Linked DNA regions of Homo sapiens. The protein of the gene in region 4 purifies or fractionates together with the protein of the main gene of each other region. This does not show direct contact. Each region holds a gene or a part of one and is shown on either strand. Other genes may lie near its edges. The genes, in order: DSG1, P4HA1, P4HA2, ARHGEF40, PPIL4 and ALDH18A1.

Evidence for each region.
Region 1: the proteins of ARHGEF40 (region 4) and DSG1 purify together in Homo sapiens (affinity purification with mass spectrometry; one large-scale study listed by BioGRID and IntAct). This does not show direct contact.
Region 2: the proteins of ARHGEF40 (region 4) and P4HA1 purify together in Homo sapiens (affinity purification with mass spectrometry; one large-scale study listed by BioGRID and IntAct). This does not show direct contact.
Region 3: the proteins of ARHGEF40 (region 4) and P4HA2 purify together in Homo sapiens (co-immunoprecipitation; one large-scale study listed by IntAct). This does not show direct contact.
Region 5: the proteins of ARHGEF40 (region 4) and PPIL4 purify together in Homo sapiens (affinity purification with mass spectrometry; one large-scale study listed by BioGRID and IntAct). This does not show direct contact.
Region 6: the proteins of ARHGEF40 (region 4) and ALDH18A1 purify together in Homo sapiens (affinity purification with mass spectrometry; one large-scale study listed by BioGRID and IntAct). This does not show direct contact.

What each region holds. Positions count from the first base shown.
Region 1 is NC_000018.10:31,352,660-31,356,159, reverse strand, and holds part of DSG1 (desmoglein-1 preproprotein), read right to left. Parts: intron 2,261-3,500; exon of another isoform or gene 2,224-2,260; intron 1,864-2,223; coding exon 814-1,863; 3' UTR 1-813. UniProt on the Homo sapiens protein: Component of intercellular desmosome junctions. Involved in the interaction of plaque proteins and intermediate filaments mediating cell-cell adhesion.
Region 2 is NC_000010.11:73,044,867-73,048,366, forward strand, and holds part of P4HA1 (prolyl 4-hydroxylase subunit alpha-1 isoform 2 precursor), read right to left. Parts: intron 2,236-3,500; coding exon 2,059-2,235; intron 186-2,058; coding exon 115-185; intron 1-114. UniProt on the Homo sapiens protein: Catalyzes the post-translational formation of 4-hydroxyproline in -Xaa-Pro-Gly- sequences in collagens and other proteins.
Region 3 is NC_000005.10:132,189,854-132,193,353, forward strand, and holds the end of P4HA2 (prolyl 4-hydroxylase subunit alpha-2 isoform 2 precursor), read right to left. Parts: intron 3,228-3,500; coding exon 3,157-3,227; 3' UTR 294-3,156; downstream 1-293. UniProt on the Homo sapiens protein: Catalyzes the post-translational formation of 4-hydroxyproline in -Xaa-Pro-Gly- sequences in collagens and other proteins.
Region 4 is NC_000014.9:21,080,304-21,083,803, reverse strand, and holds part of ARHGEF40 (rho guanine nucleotide exchange factor 40), read right to left. Parts: intron 3,145-3,500; coding exon 3,022-3,144; intron 2,932-3,021; coding exon 2,788-2,931; intron 2,485-2,787; coding exon of another isoform or gene 2,350-2,484; exon of another isoform or gene 2,307-2,349; intron 2,296-2,306; coding exon 1,685-2,295; intron 1,561-1,684; coding exon 1,326-1,560; intron 974-1,325; coding exon 887-973; intron 1-886. UniProt on the Homo sapiens protein: May act as a guanine nucleotide exchange factor (GEF).
Region 5 is NC_000006.12:149,503,995-149,508,043, reverse strand, and holds the end of PPIL4 (peptidyl-prolyl cis-trans isomerase-like 4), read left to right. Parts: intron 1-2,339; coding exon 2,340-2,591; 3' UTR 2,592-3,549; downstream 3,550-4,049. UniProt on the Homo sapiens protein: PPIases accelerate the folding of proteins. It catalyzes the cis-trans isomerization of proline imidic peptide bonds in oligopeptides.
Region 6 is NC_000010.11:95,650,212-95,653,711, forward strand, and holds part of ALDH18A1 (delta-1-pyrroline-5-carboxylate synthase), read right to left. Parts: intron 3,195-3,500; 5' UTR 3,167-3,194; coding exon 3,079-3,166; intron 1-3,078. UniProt on the Homo sapiens protein: Bifunctional enzyme that converts glutamate to glutamate 5-semialdehyde, an intermediate in the biosynthesis of proline, ornithine and arginine.

The DNA.
Region 1 (3,500 bases), on a different chromosome or scaffold from region 4:
AAACCACAGTGGTAAAGGGAAAGACGAGTGTGATATTCCTCAACCTCACCAGTAAGCAATATTCGTCAAGACTACATCTATCACTAAACACACACTAGAATCAGAAGAATCCTTGACTCCACAGGAGATTTAACTGAGGCCCCACATTAAGGTTCAGGCTCAGGCATTGCTAGTTTACCCTGAAGAAACCTCATCCTATTGCCACTCTCTAATGGAATTTTCCTCCTAGGAAACACTTCCTAATTTGGAATTTATTTTCTCTAGTGCAATAATTAAGGTAGGAGTGCTTGATGGCTTGTGGACTTGACTATGTAGTCAAACTTAAAAAAAATGGTTAACCCTTGTATAAATCTGTGGTTGAATTTTTATTTATGTTATCTGTGAAACCAACAGGGCATCTGGCACACATTTTAGATTTTTCCCATAGATATGAACATATATTGCATATTTAGTTCTTTTTGAATTTTGCTCGAGCTATATGGAAAAGCAAAACAGAGCAAGGAGAATGATGCCAATTGCCATCGTAAGGCCAGTTACATGCTGGAGATGGACTACAGGCCACTCAGGCACAAAGAAGACTCTGCCTCAAGTTTTAGTTCCTTAGTCCTAATATAAGAGAAAAGTTTATGAATGCTAAGGAGAGCTCTCCCCTAGCAGTGGTGTTTCCATTTATTTTTCTCATTGTGATTTCTCACCTTGCTCCTAGATGACCTGAGCACGAAGTTGTGCGTTATAAATCACATTGTTGGTTTTTTAGTGGTGGGAATTGGATCTAAACCACAATGACTATGAAAAAGTGAGCTGGGGTCCTGACTACTTGCTATATTGCACGGTACTATACTTTGTGATTCGACTTCGAGCTGTGCTAGGGGAGGCGGACCCAATGGTTTGGTTAAAGTGATGGTCAGAGGAACTCCTCATGTGGCCAATGCTGGCTGTCCCTCCCAAGCTGCTCAGGCCAATGCCACCACCACTTATGCCAGCTCCACTCAGGGCACCGCTCCCAGCACCCATGCTGGTGCCAACCAGGCCACTGCTGCCTATGCCACCGCTGATCCCAGTGGTGCCACTAATTCCAGTTACGCCAGCACCAGAAACAACCCTCTCTGTCACAATGACATTGTGGGCATTGGCTAACTCGGGGTGCATACTCAGACTACCTATCATGCCGGAAGTTGGTTGGATTACTCTTTCTGTCACTACCACATTTGAAGACTCTCTAGGATGATGGATAGTCAGAGAGGTGGGTAGACTAGAGCTTGGTGCTATTACCCTTTCTGTCACTATAACATTCGACCCATCTCGCAAGTCAGGCATCTCTAACATTCCATGCAAATCAGCGCCAGAGATTGGGCCGACCACTCTCTCTGTCACTACCACGTTTGATGCTGGTCGGTTATCGTGAACGTGCACAGAGGGCTTCAGAGTGTCAGAGGTGGTGTAAGACTCGGTCACAGTGACATTACCATAGCCCAGAGGATCGAGAATAGGCTTAGGATGCAGTACACCAGGTCCCGAGGGATAGGTGCTCTCAGAAATTACTGTGGTAGTGCCGAAATGTGGGGAGATTGGTGGGTGTCCACTAACAACGGGCTCTGTTTCCTGAGGAAGGCAAACTGGTTCAGTGCTTTGTGGTGGCCAAGAAGGATCAAGGTCTGGATATGATTCTTTTCCTAGGCTGATGTCTGCCAACTTCTTAAATTTAGGTCCCAGGGTATCCAAGAAGCTGTCATCCAGGTCTTCTCCAATGAAGCTACAACAACCCACAGAGCCAGCAGGGGAACCTACACCTTCGATGTCATATATGAGCAAACAGTCATTAGATGGGCGTCCTTCATCTTCATCTGCGTAAGCATATGCTTTCTGAATTTATAGGAGAAAGAGAAAATGAAATTATGAATGCATATTTAACAATAATAGAACAGCCTTTATCATTAGTTTTTCTTCCAGAGCATTTCCAAAGAGGAATGAAATAAAACAAGATTTTAACATACTAGAGATGCTCTAAAAATCATTTTATAATTATTTGAAATAATTTGGTTAGAAATCATTTTAAGTATAATTCTAATACTATGATTTTAAAAATTTACTTAGATGGACTTATTTATAATTGTGTACTTTGGACATAAAACCATACACAAAAAAATCACATGAATTGGTTTCGAGGAGGAGCCAAGATGGCCGAATAGGAACAGCTCTGGTCTACAGCTCCCAGCGTGAGCGACGCAGAAGACGGGTGATTTCTGCATTTCCATCTGAGGTACCGGGTTCATCTCACTAGGGAGTGCCAGACAGTGGGTGCAGGTCAGTGGGTGCGTCCACTGTGCGCGAGCCGAAGCAGGGCGAGGCATTGCCTCACTTGGGAAGCGCAAGGGGTCAGGGAGTTCCCTTTCTGAGTCAAAGAAAGGGGTGACGGACGGCACCTGGAAAATCGGGTCACTCCCACCCGAATACTGCGCTTTTCCGACGGGCTTAAAAAACGGCGCACCACGAGATTATATCCTGCACCTGGCTCGGAGGGTCCTACGCCCACGGAGTCTCGCTGATTGCTAGCACAGCAGTCTGAGATCAAACTGCAAAGCGGCAGTGAGGCTGGGGGAGGGGCGCCCGCCATTGCCCAGGCTTGATTAGGTAAACAAAGCAGACAGGAAGCTCGAACTGGGTGGAGCCCACCACAGCTCAAGGAGGCCTGCCTGCCTCTGTAGGCTCCACCTCTGGGGGCAGGGCACAGACAAACAAAAAGACAGCAGTAACCTCTGCAGACTTAAATGTCCCTGTCTGACAGCTTTGAAGAGAGCAGTGGTTCTCCCAGCACGCAGCTGGAGAACTGAGAACGGGCAGACTGCCTCCTCAAGTGGGTCCCTGACCCCTGACCCCCGAGCAGCCTAACTGGGAGGCACCCCCCAGCAGGGGCACACTGACACCTCACACGGCAGGGTACTCCAACAGACCTGCAGCTGAGGGTCCTCTCTGTTAGAAGGAAAACTAACAAACAGAAAGGACATCCACACCAAAAACCCATCTGTACATCACCATCATCAAAGACCAAAAGTAGATAAAACCACAAAGATGGGGAAAAAACAGAACAGAAAAACTGGAAACTCTAAAAAGCAGAGCACCTCTCCTCCTCCAAAGGAACGCAGTTCCTCACCAGCAACGGAACAAAGCTGGATGGAGAATGACTTTGACAAGCTGAGAGAAGAAGGCTTCAGACGATCAAATTACTCTGAGCTATGGGAGGACATTCAAACCAAAGGCAAAGAAGTTGAAAACTTTGAAAAAAATTTAGAAGAATGTATAACAAGAATAACCAATACAGAGAAGTGCTTAAAGGAGCTGATGGAGCTGAAAACCAAGGCTCGAGAACTACGTGAAGAATGCAGAAGCCTCAGGAGCTGATGTGATCAACCGGAAGAAAGGGTATCAGCAATGGAAGATGAAATGAATGAAATGAAGCGAGAAGGGAAGTTTAGAGAAAAAAGAATAAAAAGAAATGAGCA
Region 2 (3,500 bases), on a different chromosome or scaffold from region 4:
GTGGTGACTTGAGCTGGTGACTGAAAATGACCCACTTTCCTTAAATGAATAATTCCTGTAAGATGTATAAAACACTCATTAGAGGGCAAAATATGCAGCATACACATCTCTTACCTTTTGCTAATTCTGTAATGTACCGTCTCCAAGTCTCCTGTTATTGGGTTTGAAATGGTGGCTCGCCTCAGCTGTGAAGCCAACCATCAAAATAGTTGCATTACAAAACAAAAAACTGAATCACATTTACCCAACCAGTCAGAATTCCAGGGTTTTTACAAAGGAGGCTAAAAAGAGAAAATAACTCCATACACTTCCAGTCACCTTGTGCTGAGCCTTGAAAGCCAGTTAGTTTTTTAGGTTTTTGGGGTTTTTTTTTTTTCTTCAATTTTTTGTTTTGCATAGATGGAGGACATACAAACAAAAGAGATTGGAAATTAAATTTCTTTCAATGGTGAAAGGACATGACAGTAAGAAAAAGAGACATATCTAAAATTTGAAGTCTAATTTACAGTTAAAATAGCCATCTGGGGGTGGGGAGAGAAGGGGAAAAAAAGAAGAATGCCTATTTGCAATTAATGATCCATTCCAAAACCTTTGACTTTAATTTTTTTTAGTGATGGAACTGTTTGCACAGGTTAATGTTTAAAATTCATTTTAAGGTCAATCTTTTGTCCCTTCAAGATAGCCACTCTCATTAACATATACAGTGAAATAATCTTGGACTGAGAACAAAGGCAGAGGAAAAGAGCTCATAAATGTTAAAAACAGCAAGAAAGAGGTGACCGCCTAGATAATAATTTCAATTTTTTTTAATGGAACGATGATTCTGAGGTTGTGAGAGCATGAAATTTTATTGCCATTAAATTTATTGATCAAAAACAATCCAAATTGAGGAATCTCCAGAATATAACTTGATCTCCAAGTTGAAATGAATTAATTACCTTGGATGGCACCAATAATATATATTAATGTTAGACCAGTCTTTTGCATTTATAATGTAATCTTTGGCCAAAAAAAAAAAAAACCACCAATTTGGAGAAGCAGAAAAACTCTAAAAGAAATTCTAACTTCATTTTGTAGTATAGATATCCAGATAATTCAAACCTTTGATATAATAAGGGTCAACAAACTATGGCCACAGACCAAATTCAGCCTGCTACCTGCCACTGGAAATAAAATTTTACTGTAATATAGCCACACTCTTTCATTTACATATTTTCTTTGGCTGCTTTTGCACTATAATGGCAGAACTAAATAGTCATGACAGAGATCATATGGCCTCCAAAGCCTAAAAAATATCTAATATTGACCTTTATGGAAAAAATCTGCCAACTCCTGTGTAAGACAGCAAAGCATGCCTAGAATTTATTCAACAATCTCTTTATGAAAGTGATGGCAGCTTGTATTTTACTATCAAGAAGACCAAATATGTTTTAAGAACAAGCTGATGGGGGAAAAGGCAAGAGCATAAAGGGTAGTCTTTTCCACATTCTCACTAAAGAGTTTTTATGCTCAACACTAAGCTTATAGATTGGGTTTACGTTAGATTCTTTTTCTTTTTAAGATAAATTCTGTGGGTTAAAGTCAGAAAACTATCACCATTTCAAATTAACATAATACTTGTGCCCAATTATATCTTTTTATAATAGTAACAATGTGCCTAAAAGGGAATAAAAATACTTCCACGGTATTCTTTCAGTAAAAATACAGAAGTGAAAAAGCTGGGCTTTGAGTAGCCTCTGAGATTAAAAGACTCCAAAATACAGAGAAAAGTTTATCAGGAAGACAGTGAAACACAAATTTGTTAATGGTGAATAAAAATCTCACAATAATTTTCATAATTCAGTGCTTAAAACCCAGTTAAGGGTACATTACTTGTGTTGATAACAAATGGAAAAACTGGCATAAACACAGCATCATTAGTAACTCCATTATGCTGAGGCAAAATATCTTTAAAAAATCTGTGGCATTATTCGTATATCAATTATCCTATTTTTTTACAAAGAAAAATTGATACAAAGGTACAGTAAATTGAGGAGAAAGAAAGAAAACATTATTTACCCTTGGTTTTGCTAGGTCTTTGACGATTTCAATTTCTGCATCAGAAATAATATCATGGAAGCGAATAATACGAGGCTTGTCCCATTCATCCTCCTGTTTAGCTGGAGCCAGAATAAATTTAGGATTACGGTTTCCATCATGGTAGCGGCAAAAGAGTTTTTTCTGTCTCCGAGGGGTCTAAACATAAAGTTAAGAATATGATGAATATATTACAGTAATAATACTTTTAATATCTATTCCTATGCAGATAAGAGACAATAATCATGCTTGCATATACAGAGTATCTCTGGAAAAACATACAAAAGAAGCAGTACTCTGCAAATATTTTGCCTCAAACAGGATGTTCAGAATTTTAAATACAGTATTAATGATTATTTTCTGGGTGAGAGAGGCGAGGTCTTAAATAAGGAGAAAGGTAGTGTATCTCTTTTAACCCTTCACTCATCAAAATAAAGTTCAAATGTTTAAATATGAAAAAAAAGCCATGTTTATGAAAATATTAAATGAATGCCTGGCATTGCTCTAAATGGCACAAAGTAACTGGAAAGCACCCAGAGACAAAAAGTTTCTAGAAGAAAAAAAAAACTAGGTTTTCCTAAATACCTCACAGTTAAATGCTTGTGGCAAAAAAAAAAAAAAAAAAAAAGGAATTTTTTTAAGGGCAAAATAAAAAATGGATAGCTCTGAAAAAGAAAAAATAAGTTATTAAACAAAGATCCCAGATGCTTTTATTAGGCAGTATAAAAATAGAGCAGTCAACAAAACAAATTCCCTTCAATCATCTATGTATTATATTAATAAGTTATTTTGTTGCCTACTTCTCTTAATTAAACAAGTATGTCAGGCCTGGCATGGTGGCTCATGCCTATAACCCCAGCACTTTGGGATGCTGAGGTAGGAGGATCACTTGAGCCCAAGGAGACCAAGATCAGCCTAGGTCACACAGCGAAATCTCGTCTCTACAAAAAATTTAAAAAATTAGCCGGACATGAGGGCACTTGCCTGTAGTCCCACATACTTGAGGGGCTGAAATGGGAGGACTGCTTAAGCCCAGGAGGTAGAGGTTGCAGTGAGCCATGATCATGCCACTACACTCCAGCCTGGGTGACAGAGCAAGAAGCTGTCTCAAAAAAACAAAACAAAACAAAAACAAGTATGTCACATAAGCAGGAATATGAGTAGTCTGTTTCAATTATTATACTAATAGTATACTAAAACAAATAATGATTCATGTTTATTCTCCATGCACTTTACCTAGAGTCAAATCCAAGGCTTTAATTTTTAGTAAGTCTTTTATATAATGATGAGATGAATGTAGCTATTCTGAGAAAAAGAATTTTTTGTTTTTGTTTTTGTTTAGACAAAGTCTTGCTCTGTTACCCAGGCTGCACTGCAATGCCTTGATCTCGGCTCACTGCAGCCTCTGCCTCCTGGGTTCAAGC
Region 3 (3,500 bases), on a different chromosome or scaffold from region 4:
TAAAGCAGCCAGGTGAAGGCAAAATCACCTTCAAAGGAACAACAAAGGACCAGATAGCGACTTTTCAACAGAAATGGTATAAGCCAGAAAACAAAGAATTACATCTTTAAAGTCCTTAAACAGACTCCTGTATGCACTTGATAGAAGACAGAATTAGTGAACTTTGTACAAAACAGCTATAAAGTTCTCCCCAAATATAGCATATATATAAAAATATGAAAGACAGATTAAGAGATAATATCATGATATGATCCAACTTACATTTAATCAGTTACAGAAGAAACAGACAATGCTGAAAGAAAAAATCATTTAATTTTCCACAATTGATTAAGGATACCATTGTACAAATTCAAGAATCCAAAAAAGTCTCAAACAGGAAAAGAAAAAACCTACAAACAAACCACCTAGTGTGCCAGTCACGTTTCTATTCTCAGCTGCAAGCTCATCCTTGTAGTCTCTACTGTTCTACTGTAGCTGCCACTCTGTAAACTACATTTCCCAGATTCCCTTATCAGCTGGCTTCCTGTTAGGGTCTACCAATGGAAGCCACTAGAGGGAGATTAGACGGCAGTAGATAGCAATTGCCCTAGACCCAGTGGTTTTTTGCATGAGACAATTTTATATATTAAGCCCCTGAGATTTAAGGATTATTACTACAGAAAAAGCCCATCCTATCCTAATAAAATATGCAAAAAATTAAAAGTAGAACTTTACACTTCATACCACGTATAAAGATAAACCTAAATGACAAAGACTATATAGCTTTCAGAAGAGAACACAGGAAACATCCTCATGATCTTGGGGTATAGAAGGATTTCTCAAATAAGACATAAAAAACATAAATCAAAAAGAAAAAGCTTGATAGATTTGACATAAAAATTAAAAGCTCCTGTTTATCAAAAGACAGAACTAAAATAGTGAAAAGACAAGCCACAGAAGATATTTGCAAAATATATAACAAAGAACTTGTGTACATATTTTAAAATTTGTATGAATAAGAACACTTGAAGAAACCTAATAACTAATAAACATGAAAAGTTGTTCAACATTATCAGTAATGTTCAAATAGACACTATACATGTACTGTCTTAGGTAGAGCTGCTATAATAAAATACCATACATTGAATTAAAAACATTTATTTCTCATGGTTATGGGAACTGGAAAGTCCGAGATCAAGATGCTAGTAGGTTTGTTTCTGGTAAGGGCCCCCTGGTTCATAGACAGGCATCTTCTTGCTGTGTGTTCGCATGGCAGAAAGAGGGCTGGGATCTCTTCATAAGGGCACTAATCCCACTCACGTGGGCTCCATGCTTACGACCTCCCAAGGGCTCCGCATCCTAATATCATCACATTGGGGGTTAAGATTTCAACATATGGGCCGGGCGCGGTGGCTCACGCCTGTAATCCCAGCACTTTGGGAGGCCGAGGCGGGCGGATCACGAGGTCAGGAGATCGAGACCATCCCGGCTAAAACGGTGAAACCCCGTCTCTACTAAAAATACAAAAAATTAGCCGGGCGTAGTGGCGGGCGCCTGTAGTCCCAGCTACTTGGGAGGCTGAGGCAGGAGAATGGCGTGAACCCGGGAGGCGGAGCTTGCAGTGAGCCGAGATCCCGCCACTGCACTCCAGCCTGGGCGACAGAGCGAGACTCCGTCTCAAAAAAAAAAAAAAAAAAAAAGATTTCAACATATGAATCTGGTGGGGGGACACAAACATTTAGTCCGTAACATGTACCAAGCTAGCTAAAATTCAAAAGTATGAAAATACTAAATACTGGAAAAGATTGGGGTAATAACTCTCATTTACTCCTGGTGAGAATGTGTATAACCACCTTGGAATACATTATTTAGTAAAGTTGGAACACCATTAAGACTCCACATTTCCACTCCTAGATATATATCCTACAGAAATATGTGTTTATATGTGCACCAGGAATCATGTATAAAAATGTTTATCACAGCATTATTCACAATATACAAAGACTGAAATCAATTCCAGTGTTTATCAGCAGCATGCTGCCTGTATTATGGTACAGTCCTACAATAAGCATTAACAAAACTGAATGTACTATAAAGATTAAAACAAATTACAGCTACACAAGCAACACGGATGAATCTTAAAACAATGTTGAACAAAAGAAGCCACATACCCAAAAATATTTACTCTCATTCTATTAGTAAAAGTTCAAAATCAGGGAAAACAGAATAACTACTTATTTAGGGATCTAATCATAGATGGTAAAACTATAAAGACAAGCAAAGGAATGAGTACCACACATCATGAGACAATGATTTATCTCCAAAGTGCTGGGGGCAGTGAAGGAGATGTGATCTAGGAGGGGTTCCCAAGGGGCTCCTGAGGTACTGACTTGAAAACGTTCTCTTTTCTAACTTGGTGTTGACACAGGTGCTCCTGCTCACCTTCATATTTTTTTAAGTATACATCTGTGTATCATGAACAATTCTTATCTCAAAATTTAAAAATGAAGTACACATTATAACAGCATTACAATCATGAACACATGTGCTATGTTCTCTGGGAGACAAAGAGAAACTATTTACCCTACTTTCCAGAAAAGGACACTGACACTTAGAGGGAACACAAGTGTTGAAACCAGGTCTGAAATCCAAGACCCAAGATGCTTTTTTGCTGCTAAAGCATTCATTATCCAGACTCTGCCTGCATGAAGGTGATGCATAGGAAATGATGAACCTGGTAAAAGCTTCCAGTCTTAAAAATACTCCAAGTAAGGCTCTTTAAGGCTTCTGGTAGGGACATTTTATTTTTTGGTAAAGCCACAATAGATAGAAATGCCATAAAAACAAACATGTAAACAAGGTATCAGAACTTTGGTTCACTGAAACATCTCACACCTAAAACACCTGAGGTACAAAGGCACCTTGCTAGGCGCTAGACAGCTAACTCTGCTGCAGCCACTTTGATCCTAGCCTTGGGGCCAGGGATGGCACAGGCTGAATGGAAGGGCTGGGACTTCAGTCACACAGGAGTCGCCCTAGTATGGTCTCCCTCTGCTCCAGACAAACATTCATTTCTCCAAAAATCAGCCTGATAGGAACATACAAAGGAACATACAAAGGTGTCTGTCACGTTGACATGGGCTGAAGGACCAGGAAGGGGAAGGACAGAAAAGGATGTCAGTCAACTTCTGTTGATCCACAAGGTCTCAAGAACTCCTGTCCTCGTTCATGGAACCACTTATTGGAGACTGTGAAAAGAAAGCAAGCATGTTACAATCCTATTGGTCAGTTTAGTAGCCTGAATGAATGACTCCTTCATGATGACCCCCTGCACTGTGCCCTGGAATCAGACACAAATAAGACAAGACATGATCTCAGGCCTCAATTTGCTGAAGAATTGGTAAGGAAGACACATGTAAACAGATAATTGTATGAAATTCTGCCAGTGGGACAAGATACATGTGTGCAGGTTGCCATGGGAATAGCACCCAAGGGCATCTAATCATGCCCTTTCATGCCCA
Region 4 (3,500 bases):
AGGGGTGGAGCCTCTGGGGGCCAAGCTCAGGGGTTGGGGGGTAGGTGGGTGATACCCTAGGCTTTTGGGTATAGATGAAGCCCAGATGCTCCCTAAAGTAAGGCAAAACCATTCTCCCTGGAAAGAAAGCAGGTGGGGGCCTGCAGGCCAGCAATCACTGTCTATATCTTGAAGGGAAATGGAAGAAGAATCAAAATAGTAATCCCCTTTACTTTCTGGCTTTGAACTTTTCTTTTCTTTTCTTCTTTTCCCCTGAGATGGAGTCTTGCTCTGTCGCCCAGGCTGGAGTGCAGTGGCACAATCTCGGCTCACTGCAAGCTCCGCCTCCCAGGTTCACGCCATTCTTCTGCCTCAGCCTCCCGAGTAGCTGGGACTACAGGTGCCCGCCACCACGCCTGGCTAATTTTTTTTTTTTTTTTGTATTTCTAGTAGAGATGGGGTTTCACTATATTGGCCAGATAGTCTCAATCTCCTGACCTCGTGATCCACCCGCCTCGGCCTCCCAAAGTGCTGGGATTACAGGTGTGAGTCACCGCGCCCGGCCACTGCCTTTGAACTTTTAGTCACTTGTACGTCTTTTGATGTGAGCTCTTCTGATGCTTAGATCCTCCCTGTGAGCTGGCTATAGTGACTATTGCCCCCATTTACCAGCTGTGGAAATAGAGGCCCAGAGGAAACAGGAGTCCTGCCCAGTCCCTCAGGTGGACTGGATAAGAACCTGGCCTCACCAGTCCGGTGCTTGTCCCACCCTCGGCAATTCTAGGAGATGATTGGTAGGTGATGTTCCTGGGCATATCCAGTTTTTTGCCCTGAGGGATTTGTTGGGTGGGTTTTTAGGTCTTTCTGGCCTCTCTACTTTTCTCCTGAAGGTTGGAGAAAAAGTTACCTTGCTTAAGGGACTGAGCGCAGCCAGACCATTCTCCAGTTTGTGTCGGTGCTTCACGTACTGTGCATAAAGGCTGAACTGGTCCCCCTGTGCCAGTAAAGAACAGATAAGGAGTCCCCGGTGAGGCCGCTGCAGACAAGCCTCTCTCTTCCCCCTCTCTATCCTCTCTGTAGCCCAAATGAGGGATGGGTCACCAGGGAGCACTCAGCCTACCAGGGAGGGAAGGGCTCCCTGTGGAGAGAGCATAGTCCAGGCAGCTCTTGAGAGCAGGGCGCAGAGGCTGAGTAGAGGCAGAAGTGCCCACAGAACAGGGCTGGGCCCCAAGGTCATGGACCACACATGGGAGGAGAGGGCCGTGGGTACTGAGAAAGAGGGACAGATGGATGAGGCTGGAACAGAGAAGGGAGAGCACTTGGAAGAAGTTGAGGGGATCACTCACGTGGCGAAGGAAGCAGGCCCCAATGCGTAGGGGGTGGGTGGCGCAGCCCTGAAGCTCCCGCAGAAAGTGTGTCCGGTGGAAGCTGCGAAGCCTTTCCCGGGCACTCAGGGCAGCAGCCCAGGTGCCCCGAAGTTCAGGCGTCAGCTCAGGCCCAGGGGGTGGCACTGGCTCACTCAAGGTGGCCACGTAATCTTGTTCACAGGCAATCAGCTCAGACACCAGCCGCTGCTGGGCACTGCAGGCACAATAGGAGTGGCAGAGGAGGTGTGGGAGGGAGCCAGTACCCCCAACAATGTCATCTTCTTTTCCTACTGGGCAGTTGGCTCCGCCTCTTAGCACCAGTTGGGCTGGGATCTCACCTGATGCTTCGCTTGCGCTCCATCCGGGGGGTGCCTACTCCCCAGGGTCCGTCTGGCCCCCTAGCCCGGCCCAGCAGCACGTGTTCCCGTGGTGAGCACGTCCTGTCTACCACCTCAGTGCTGGTGACCTCCAGGCCTCGGATCAGCACAGCTCTTGGGGGCCTGCCCTCTGCTTCTGGAGCCAGCTCAGGGCCCTCTTCCTCATAGTCCTCTCCACATGGGGCCAGGGAGCAATGGGATGGGGCTGGCCGTGGCCCAGGGCTGCTGGGGAGCAGCAAGGAGCTGAGGCTGGGCGAGGGGCTGCGGGGCCCCCACTGGGCCCCTCCACTGCTGGCACCGTCTGCCCGCCGTCGTCGGTAGCCCCGTGGGCTCGCCTCCTCTCCCACGTGTTGCTGGATCCTCCTCTCTAGCTCTTGGCAGCGGGCCTGGCAGCGGCCCCATTCTCGCAGGGCTGCTGGGCTGCCCAGGTCCAGGGCCAGGGCCCGCATCTCCTGGAAGGTGCCGGCACTGGGCTCTGGGGCCCGCCGCAGGGCCAGTGCAGCCAGCACAGCCTCCCGACCCGGCCCAGCTCCTGCCAGCCGAGCAAAGCCCTCATCCACCCATTCATGTGCCTACGAAGTCAAAGGGGTTGGGGATGGGAGAGAAAGGGTAAGGGCCTGTGTTGCTCACGAAGGATGCCCAGTGACAGCCCTTGTCCTCTTGCCTGTGGCCTCCCAATGCCCGTCACTCTCCTGTTTTCTCACTGTTCCACCATCACTGCCTAACCATGTCACTCGGAGTTGGTATGGAGATGGAAGAGCCTATATAAAAGAATAACCGGTACTCATACGACATTTATGAGTGGCAGGCTCTGTGCTAAGGGCTTTTATGTATTGCCTCGTGTAATCCCCACAGCAGCCCTGTGAGGTAGATCTATGGAGGCACAGTCAGGTTTAGTATCTTGCCCCATGCCATTCAGCAAGGAGGTGGCAGAGCTAAGAGCAAAAACCTAGGAGATGGGCCCCTCAGCCTCCACTTTTAACAACTTGATTAGCCTCTCCAGGCAGAAAGGAAGTGAATAAATGGAAATGGGGGGGCACAGAAGGAAAAGGCTCTGCATGCACCTGCTGGAAGAAGCGCTGTAGCCGCAGGGCCCGATGGAGGCCACTCTCAACCTGCTCCAGCCGCTGTTCAAAGATATCCAGCACCTTCTGGGAGGTGGCATTCTCCTCCAGAGCCAGGGCCTCCCGTGCCTGGGCCAGGCGCTCCTGGAGAAGGGAGGCTGCGCTCAGACCTGGTCCTCACTCCTAGGTAGTCTCCCCCTGCCTCCTCTCACCTGCCCTCCAGCCCCTTCTCACCTGGACCTCAGCGCTGAAAGCACGGAATCGCAGCTCTGTCTCCTGCAGGGCAGACAAGGTGTCCCCAGGCATAGCAAAGCTTGCCAGCTGCTCCTCCCCTGGGCCCGAGAGCCACTGCAACACCTGAGGCAGATGGGGTGGGAGGGCAGGGGGTCATGGAGTGGAAAGGCAAGGAAGGGCTGAGATCCAGCATCAGCCCCACCACCCCAATCTATAGAACTTTGAGTGAACTATTGCATCTCATCTGCAATGTGGGAATGACAACAGTGAATGGTAATAGTTTCCACAAGGGTCAGATGAGAAACCGAGTAAGAAATCTTTGGTAAGGCAGATGAGAGGGAAGCTGGGCTGATGGGAAGCACTGAGGGAGTGGGTCAAAGTTCCAGGGCTATGTCCGAGGGTGAAGTACATCAAACTGGGGTGAACCAAAAGCAGGATGAGGGTCATAGGGATGACTGACGGCCTTCACCAAGCCTTGG
Region 5 (4,049 bases), on a different chromosome or scaffold from region 4:
CATGGCTTCATTCAGCCACTTTAACTTTTCCCCTTCATACATACAGGGCTCATTTTTCCTTGCTTTTCAGTTTTCACTTACACTACTTTCATTAGCCTTCTTGCAGCCCATTCAGACCCAAGCTCACTTACCCTTTGAGGCTCATCTGAAATCCTAACTTCTCCATGAAACCTTCTCTAATTATTCTAACCTTAAGAGTACTTGTTTGACACATCTCCTAAATGTCAAAGACTATTTGAACCCAGATCTACCTGACTTCAAAGCTTGTGTAGCTTTGAAAACTACTCCCGAGTAGGAGTGATTTTAAAGTTTCAGTCCAATTCAAATATTCAGCTTCCTCAAATTTTTAAAAGAATGAAGTGCTACATAATCTTTTATCTCTTCTATTTTAAATACTCAAAGCACTTAAGTGCCCATTTGTATAATAACATACTGAGGATTTTATAAATTTATACATCAGCCAGCAGTCTCGGCATTTTAAAAGTTTGTCTCAACCAATACAGAAATAAGTACAAGATGTACAGATATAATAGTATATGAATATTTCTATTTTGTATATGTTATAGGAAGCACAAAAATTCTTTTATCTCAGAATGTCATATTTTACTAGAAAATTGATGGCAAAAGGCTAAACCAAAATGCCTACTCATTTTTTCTACCTCAGGGACTCTTATAATATGACAAGAACTATTGGGATTGTGTGGAAAATCACAAATCAGTTTATAATACTGTATTACACAGTGTGATTATTACTATAACAATCCTGTTACATCTGTTTTCACACACTGTCAAACTCAAGGTGTACAGTATCTAGACAGTATATGGAATAACTAATAATTTGCTTAAAACCCAGTCCTTAACCATGGGTATTCATCACTCTGAATTTTAAGCCTTGACATTTATGTCTGCTACAGTGGTATCTGGTGATAGAGTTGAGACCCTTGGGAGTTTAGTCCTTAGAATTTTCCTTTCCTTTGGGCAGTCTTAAGAAAGTTAAATTTTACAAAGTATCTCTTGAAAGAGCATTGGCTGTGGTCTAAGAGTAGAATTAAATGTAGCAATTTTATTATCTTTGGGGCAAAGGATTCTACCAGTGTTTAAAAACTCATTTTAAAGAAATATAATAATTTTGACATAAGCCTAATCAGCTGAGTGAGGTGGCTCATGCCTGTAATCCCAGTACTTTGGGAGGCCGAGGTGGGAGGGGATCACTTGAACCCAGGAGTTTGAGACCACCCTGGGCAACATGGGGAAACCCCGTCTCTACAAAAAAATACAAAAATTAGCCAGGTGTGATGGCACATGCCTGTGGTCTCAGCTACTTAGGAGACTGAGGTGGGAAGGATCGGTTGAGCCTGGGAGGTTGAAGCTACAGTGAGCCATGATCGTGCCACTGCATTCCTGCCTGGGAGACAGCAAGACCTTGTCTCAAAAAAAATTCTCCTCTCTAACTTCTGTCTTTCTAAACATGGAAGATGTATTTGAACATCTAGAGAGGAGCTGTTATAAAATAAAACACTTTAAAAATTAATTGCTCAGACCCAAGTATACATTATCCATTTTCTTTTTTCGAGATGGAGTTTCGCTCTTGTTGCCCAGGCTGGAGTGCAGTGGGGCAATCTTGGCTCACCGCAACCTCTGCCTCCCAGGTTCAAGCAATTCTCCTGCCTCAGCCTCCCGAGTAGCTGGGATTACAGGCATGCGTCCCCACACCTGGCTAATTTTGTATTTTTAGTAGAGTTTCTCCATGTTGGTCAGGCTGGTCTTGAACTCCTGACCTCAGGTGATCCATCCACCTCAACCTCCCAAAGTGCTGGGATTACAGACGTGAGCCACCGCATCCAGCCTCCATTTTCTTATTTAAGACTTACTGACTTGTCTAAGATCTCTTCCTGCTAAGTTATTTCAATGATATCTTCTTATAGGATTCTTATGGGAATTTTAGTAGTTTCATTGCAGATCAATAATGGGACCACGTTTTGGGGGAGTGAAGGGTGGGGAGCTGGGAATAAGACTATACATAATCAGAATTTTTGATTTTGCAGATTGCTCTAGAGACATGTTCTGATTTCAGTTGAGCTATTTCAGTTCCATATTTTTGAAGCTGATCCTTCGTTTCAGCCAAAATAGTAGATACAAATCAATGACGTTGTTAAACCTTTTTCTGAATTATTTTATTGCTTTGTAATTTACAAGATTCTTGACATTAGTGGTAGTGTTCACATTTAAGCTGTTATAACAGCCTTCTAATGGTAGACTTTTCTAAGTTTTATTAATTGAAAATGCCCACAAAATGATTATTTTACTGATTCACTTGTAATTCCCCCTTCCTTTGACAGGATATCTATAGAGAAATGGGGTTTGGTCACTATGAAGAAGAAGAAAGCTGTTGGGAGAAACAAAAGAGTGAAAAGAGAGACCGAACTCAGAACCGAAGTCGTAGCCGATCTCGAGAGAGGGATGGCCATTATAGTAATAGTCATAAATCAAAATACCAAACAGATCTTTATGAAAGAGAAAGGAGTAAAAAGAGAGACCGAAGCAGAAGTCCAAAGAAGTCCAAAGATAAAGAAAAATCTAAGTATAGATGAAAGATGAAGAGGCAGAATTGAGAGGCTAACATATTTACTCTTGTCTAACTTAAGAGTGCCAGGAAAGCAGATGCTTAGATTTTGTGTCAAAGCTTGTTATTTTTTTCATACTAGGATTATGGTCTTTAGATTAATACTGATTATATAGAGCACGGAAAGATAAAGAATTGAACATTTTCTTTGTATACTTTTTTACACTAATTTTATTGTTATACATAAATGGTAGTCTTCATTTTTGAAGTCTTACATTTTCACTCTTTTTTTAATGAAGTATTTCATACTACAAAAATACATAAACGTATATATAAAGGGATAATAAATGTAAATATCTGTGTACTCATCAGCCAGCTTAAGATACAGATGTTGTCGACATTTTAGAAGTTCCCTAAGGCCCTCTCCCTCTCAAATAATTATTTGGAATTTTGTGTTTGTCATTTGTCTATTATAGTTTTACAACATACGTATGTATCTGTAAGTGAAATGTTAATTTTGTATGTTTCTGAATTTTATATAAATGGCAAAATGTTTACTTCTGTGACTTTCTTTCATTTTTATTGCTATATAGTATTATATAAATATACTACAACTTATTCATTCTTGATGGACATTTGAGTTTTGTTTATTTGTTTTTGCTGTTGAAACAATGCTGCTGTGAACATTGTATCTAGCAGTTATATTGCTTGATATATTGATAAAATAATGCCAAATTTGTGTTCTGAAGTGACTGTACTAGTTTATACCTCTCTTGGCACTGTGAGTTACCTTTGTTTCATAGCATCTCCAACACTTAAGTTCAGACTTAAAAATTTGCCAACCTAGTGGATGTTAAGTGGTATCTACCTGTGATTTCCAGCAAGATTACTGTTATCTCTGCTCTTCCATGTGTAAGATGTCATTTTTTTCCTGGCTGCTTTTAAGGTTTTCTGTCACTGGTTGTAAGAAGTTTGATTATGATGTGCTTGCTGTAGTTTTTTTTTCACGTTTCTGCTGCTGCAGCTATTTTACCTGTGGGTTTATGGTTTTCATAGAATTTGGAAATTGGGGGGCATTTTTTCTTCTGTTATGGTTTTCTCTCTGCTCCTCTCATGCTTCTCCTGGGGCTCTGATGACTTGGATGTACGTTAGGCCCCTCAGAATTTTCTCCCAGTGTGCTGATTCTGTGCAGCTTTTTAAAAAGCCTTTTTCTCTCTGTGTTTCATGTTGGGTACTTTCCAGTGCTGTGTCCTCATTGTTTATTAATCTTTCTGTCTAAAGTATCTAATTTCCTTTTAATCGTATCCAGGTATTTTTCACCTCCGACATATTTTTAGTCTTTAGAATTTCTGTCTGGGTCTTTATCTCCCATGTGTCTCCTTCACATGCTCATGCCTTCCTCTATTTTTTTTTTTTTCAACATCTGGAGTGTATTGATAATAGCTCTTTCAGTGTGCTTGCCCATTCTGTCATCTGCATCATTTC
Region 6 (3,500 bases), on a different chromosome or scaffold from region 4:
ACAAAAGCTGATAAATTTGACGTCATCAAAAGAAAAACTTTTCCTATATGAAAGACCCTCTTAAGAGAATAAAATGACAAGCTATGAGACTGGGAGAAAACATTTGCAAACCACCTATCCAACAAAGGACTAATACCTGGAAGTGCTATGGTTTGGATATGGTTTGGCCCTTCCAAGTCTCAGGTTGAAATCTGATCCCCAGTGTTGGAGGTGGGGCCTGGTAGGAAGTGTTTGAATTACGGGGGCAGATCCCTGATGAACAGCCTGGTGCCAGTCTCAGAGGGAATGCATGAGTCCTCACTCTTAGTTCCCATGAGACATGGTTGTTAAAAAGAGCCTGGCCCTTTCTTTTCTCTCTCTTGCTTCCTCTCTGGCCATCTGATTTTGCACACAACAGCTCCCCTTCATCCTCTTCCAAGAGCAGAAGCAGCCTGAGGCATTCACCCAATGCAGTTTTTGGTGCCATGCTTTTTGTGCAGCCTGCAGAACCATGACAAATAAACCTCTTTTCTTTATACATTACCCAGCCTCAGATATTCCTTTATAGCAATAAAAATGGACTAAGACAGGAAGATATAGAGAATTCTCAAAATTCAATAGTTTAAAAAAAAAACAACTTTCCAATTCAAACTGAGCTGAAGGCCAGGTGTGGAGGCTCATGCCTATAATCCCAGGACTTTGGGAGGCTGAGGTGGGGGGATCACTTGAGGTCAGGAGTTTGACACCAGCCTGGCCAACATGGTAAAACCCTGTTTCTACTAAAAATACAAAAACTGGCTGGGCATGGTGGTGGGCACCTGTAATCCCAGCTACTCAGGAACTGAGGCAGGAGAATCGCTTGAACCCGGGAGGCAGAGGTTGCAGTGAGCTGAGATTGCGCCACTACACTCCAGCCTGGGTGACAGGGCAAGACTCCATCTCAAAAAACAAAAAAAAACAAAAAGAATGAGCTAAAGACATGAACTAACATTTCACTGAAGAGGATATAAACACATGAAAAGATGTTCAATATCATTAGCTATTAGGGAAAGGCACATTAAAGCCACAATGTGATTATCACTACATACCTATCAAAATGGCTAAAATAAAAAAGAGTGACCACATCAAATGACGGTAAAGATGCAGAGAAAGTGCATCACTCATACAGTGCTAGTAGGAATGTAAAATGGTACTGTCACTCTGCAAAGACAGTTTGACAGTTTCTTATAAAACTGTGTTAGGCCATTCTTGCATTGCTGTAAAGAAATACCTGAGGCTAGGTAATTTATAAAGAAAAGAGGTTTAACTGGCTCATAGTTCTGTGGGCTGTACAGGAAGCATGGTGCTGGCATCTGCTCAGCTTCTGGTGAGGCCTCAGGAAGCTTATAATCATGGCAGAAGGCAAAGGGGAAGCAGGCATCTCCAATGGCGAGAGAGGGAACAAGAAGAGAGAGTGAGGGGGTGGTGCCACACACTTAACCAGATCTTGTGAGAAGTCACTCACTATCTCAAGGACAGCACCAAGGCATGAGGGATTCACCCCCATGACTCAAACACCTCCCACAGGCCCCACCTCCAACACTGGGGATTACAATTCAATATGAGATTTGGTAGGGACATACATTCAAACTATGTAAAAAACTAAACATGTAGCTACAATCTGACCCAGCAACTACACTCTTAGGCATTTATCCCACAGAAATGAAAACTATGTTCACACAAAATCCTGTACATCAATGTTCATACCAGCCTTATTCATAACAGCCAAAAAATGAGAACAACCCAGATGTCCTTTAATGGGTGAATGGTTACACTAACTGTGATACACTCATAGCATTACATACTTCTCAGTAATAAAAAGGAACTAACTGATACACACAGCAACTTGAATGAATCTCCAGAGAATTATGCTGAAGAAAACAGAATTCCAAAAGGTTACATACTGGATAATTCCATTTATATAACATTTTTATAAGGACAAAATTATAAAAATGTAGACCAGATTAATGTTGGCCAGGGGTTAGTAATAGGGAAGAGGACAGTGGCTGTTAAAGAGAAATAAAAAATCCTGTGGTGATTGAAATGTTCTGTATCTTGATCGTATCAACGTCAATACCTTGGTTCAGATACTGGGTGAAATTGGGTAAAGGGTATAAGGGACCTTTTTGTACTATTTCTTAAAATTGCAAGTGAATTTATAATTAGCTCAAAATCTAAAACTTAATTACAAAAAAAGAGTAATGAACAAAAATAGCATGGGGCCGGGCACAGTGGCTAACGCCTGTAATCCCAACACTTTGGGAGGGAGGCCGAGGCGGGCAGATCACCTGAGGTCAGGAGTTCGAGACCAGCCTGGCCAACATGGCGAAACCCTATTTCTACTAAAAATACAAAATTAGCTGGGTATGGTGATGCACACCTGTAATCCCAGCTAACTGGGAGGCTGAGGCAGGAGAATCGCTTGAACCTGGGAAGCAGAGGTTGCAGTGAGCTGAGATTACACCACTGCACTCCAACCTGGGAGACAGAGTGAGACTCAAGAAAAAAAAAAAGCATGTAAAAATTTATTTGGGGGTCAACTTTATTGACACAAACACTGAGAACATTTCACCAGGAGACTACCTCTTTGCCTCCTTGCTATTTGGCAGAATTTTGTCCAATTCTGCCAAATTACATCTTTTTTTTCTCTCTCTCTCTTTTAAACCTTTTTTCTTGGCTGGGCACGATGGCTCACGCCTGTAATCCCAGCACTTTGGGAGGCCAAGGCAGGCAGATTGCTTGATCTCAAGAGTTCAAGACCAGCCTGGGCAACATGGCAAAATCGCATCTCGACAAAAAATAAAAAAGTTAGAGTCAGCGCGGTGGTGTGTGCCTGTAGTCCCAAGTACTTGGTGGGCTGAGGCAGGAGGATTGCTTGAGTCCAAGAGGTCTGGACTGCATGGAGCTATGTTTGTGCCACTGCACTCCAGCCTGTGTGACAAAATGAGACCCTGTCTCCAAACAAACAAACAAACATCTTTTTTCTCTTTGAAAACCTTGTTGAAACATACTTTGACTATCAAACGTCCCACATACTCATAAGTTTTCTATGGTACATACGAGATCTGAAGACGGTTGTACACTTGACCCAGGGCAGAAGATGTTGGTTGAAGGGCTGGAACCCACAGCGGTAAACTTGACTCAACATGCTGCGATGTGGTCACTAACCAAAGTATCTGCAGAATACATTTTTTAAAAAGTGAGTAATGAAAAATACTGGACAATTCATTTTATTTCCCTCTACTTCCCCTTACCCTCGGAGTAAAAATCTGACTCTCCTGCTCCAAACTCCTCTGTATTAGGGAAACTCCCACCTCCTCTATATTATAGAAAAGAGAGAAAAAGTAAGTGGCTCCTTTCTAGGCCTCAACCATCTTAGTTTTTATGTAAGCAAATAATAATGCAGAGTTAGGAATATTTTGAGACACAAAAAACACCTGCTCTTTTTGGTATCTTCCAAATTTAAAAAAAATCTTTCAGGT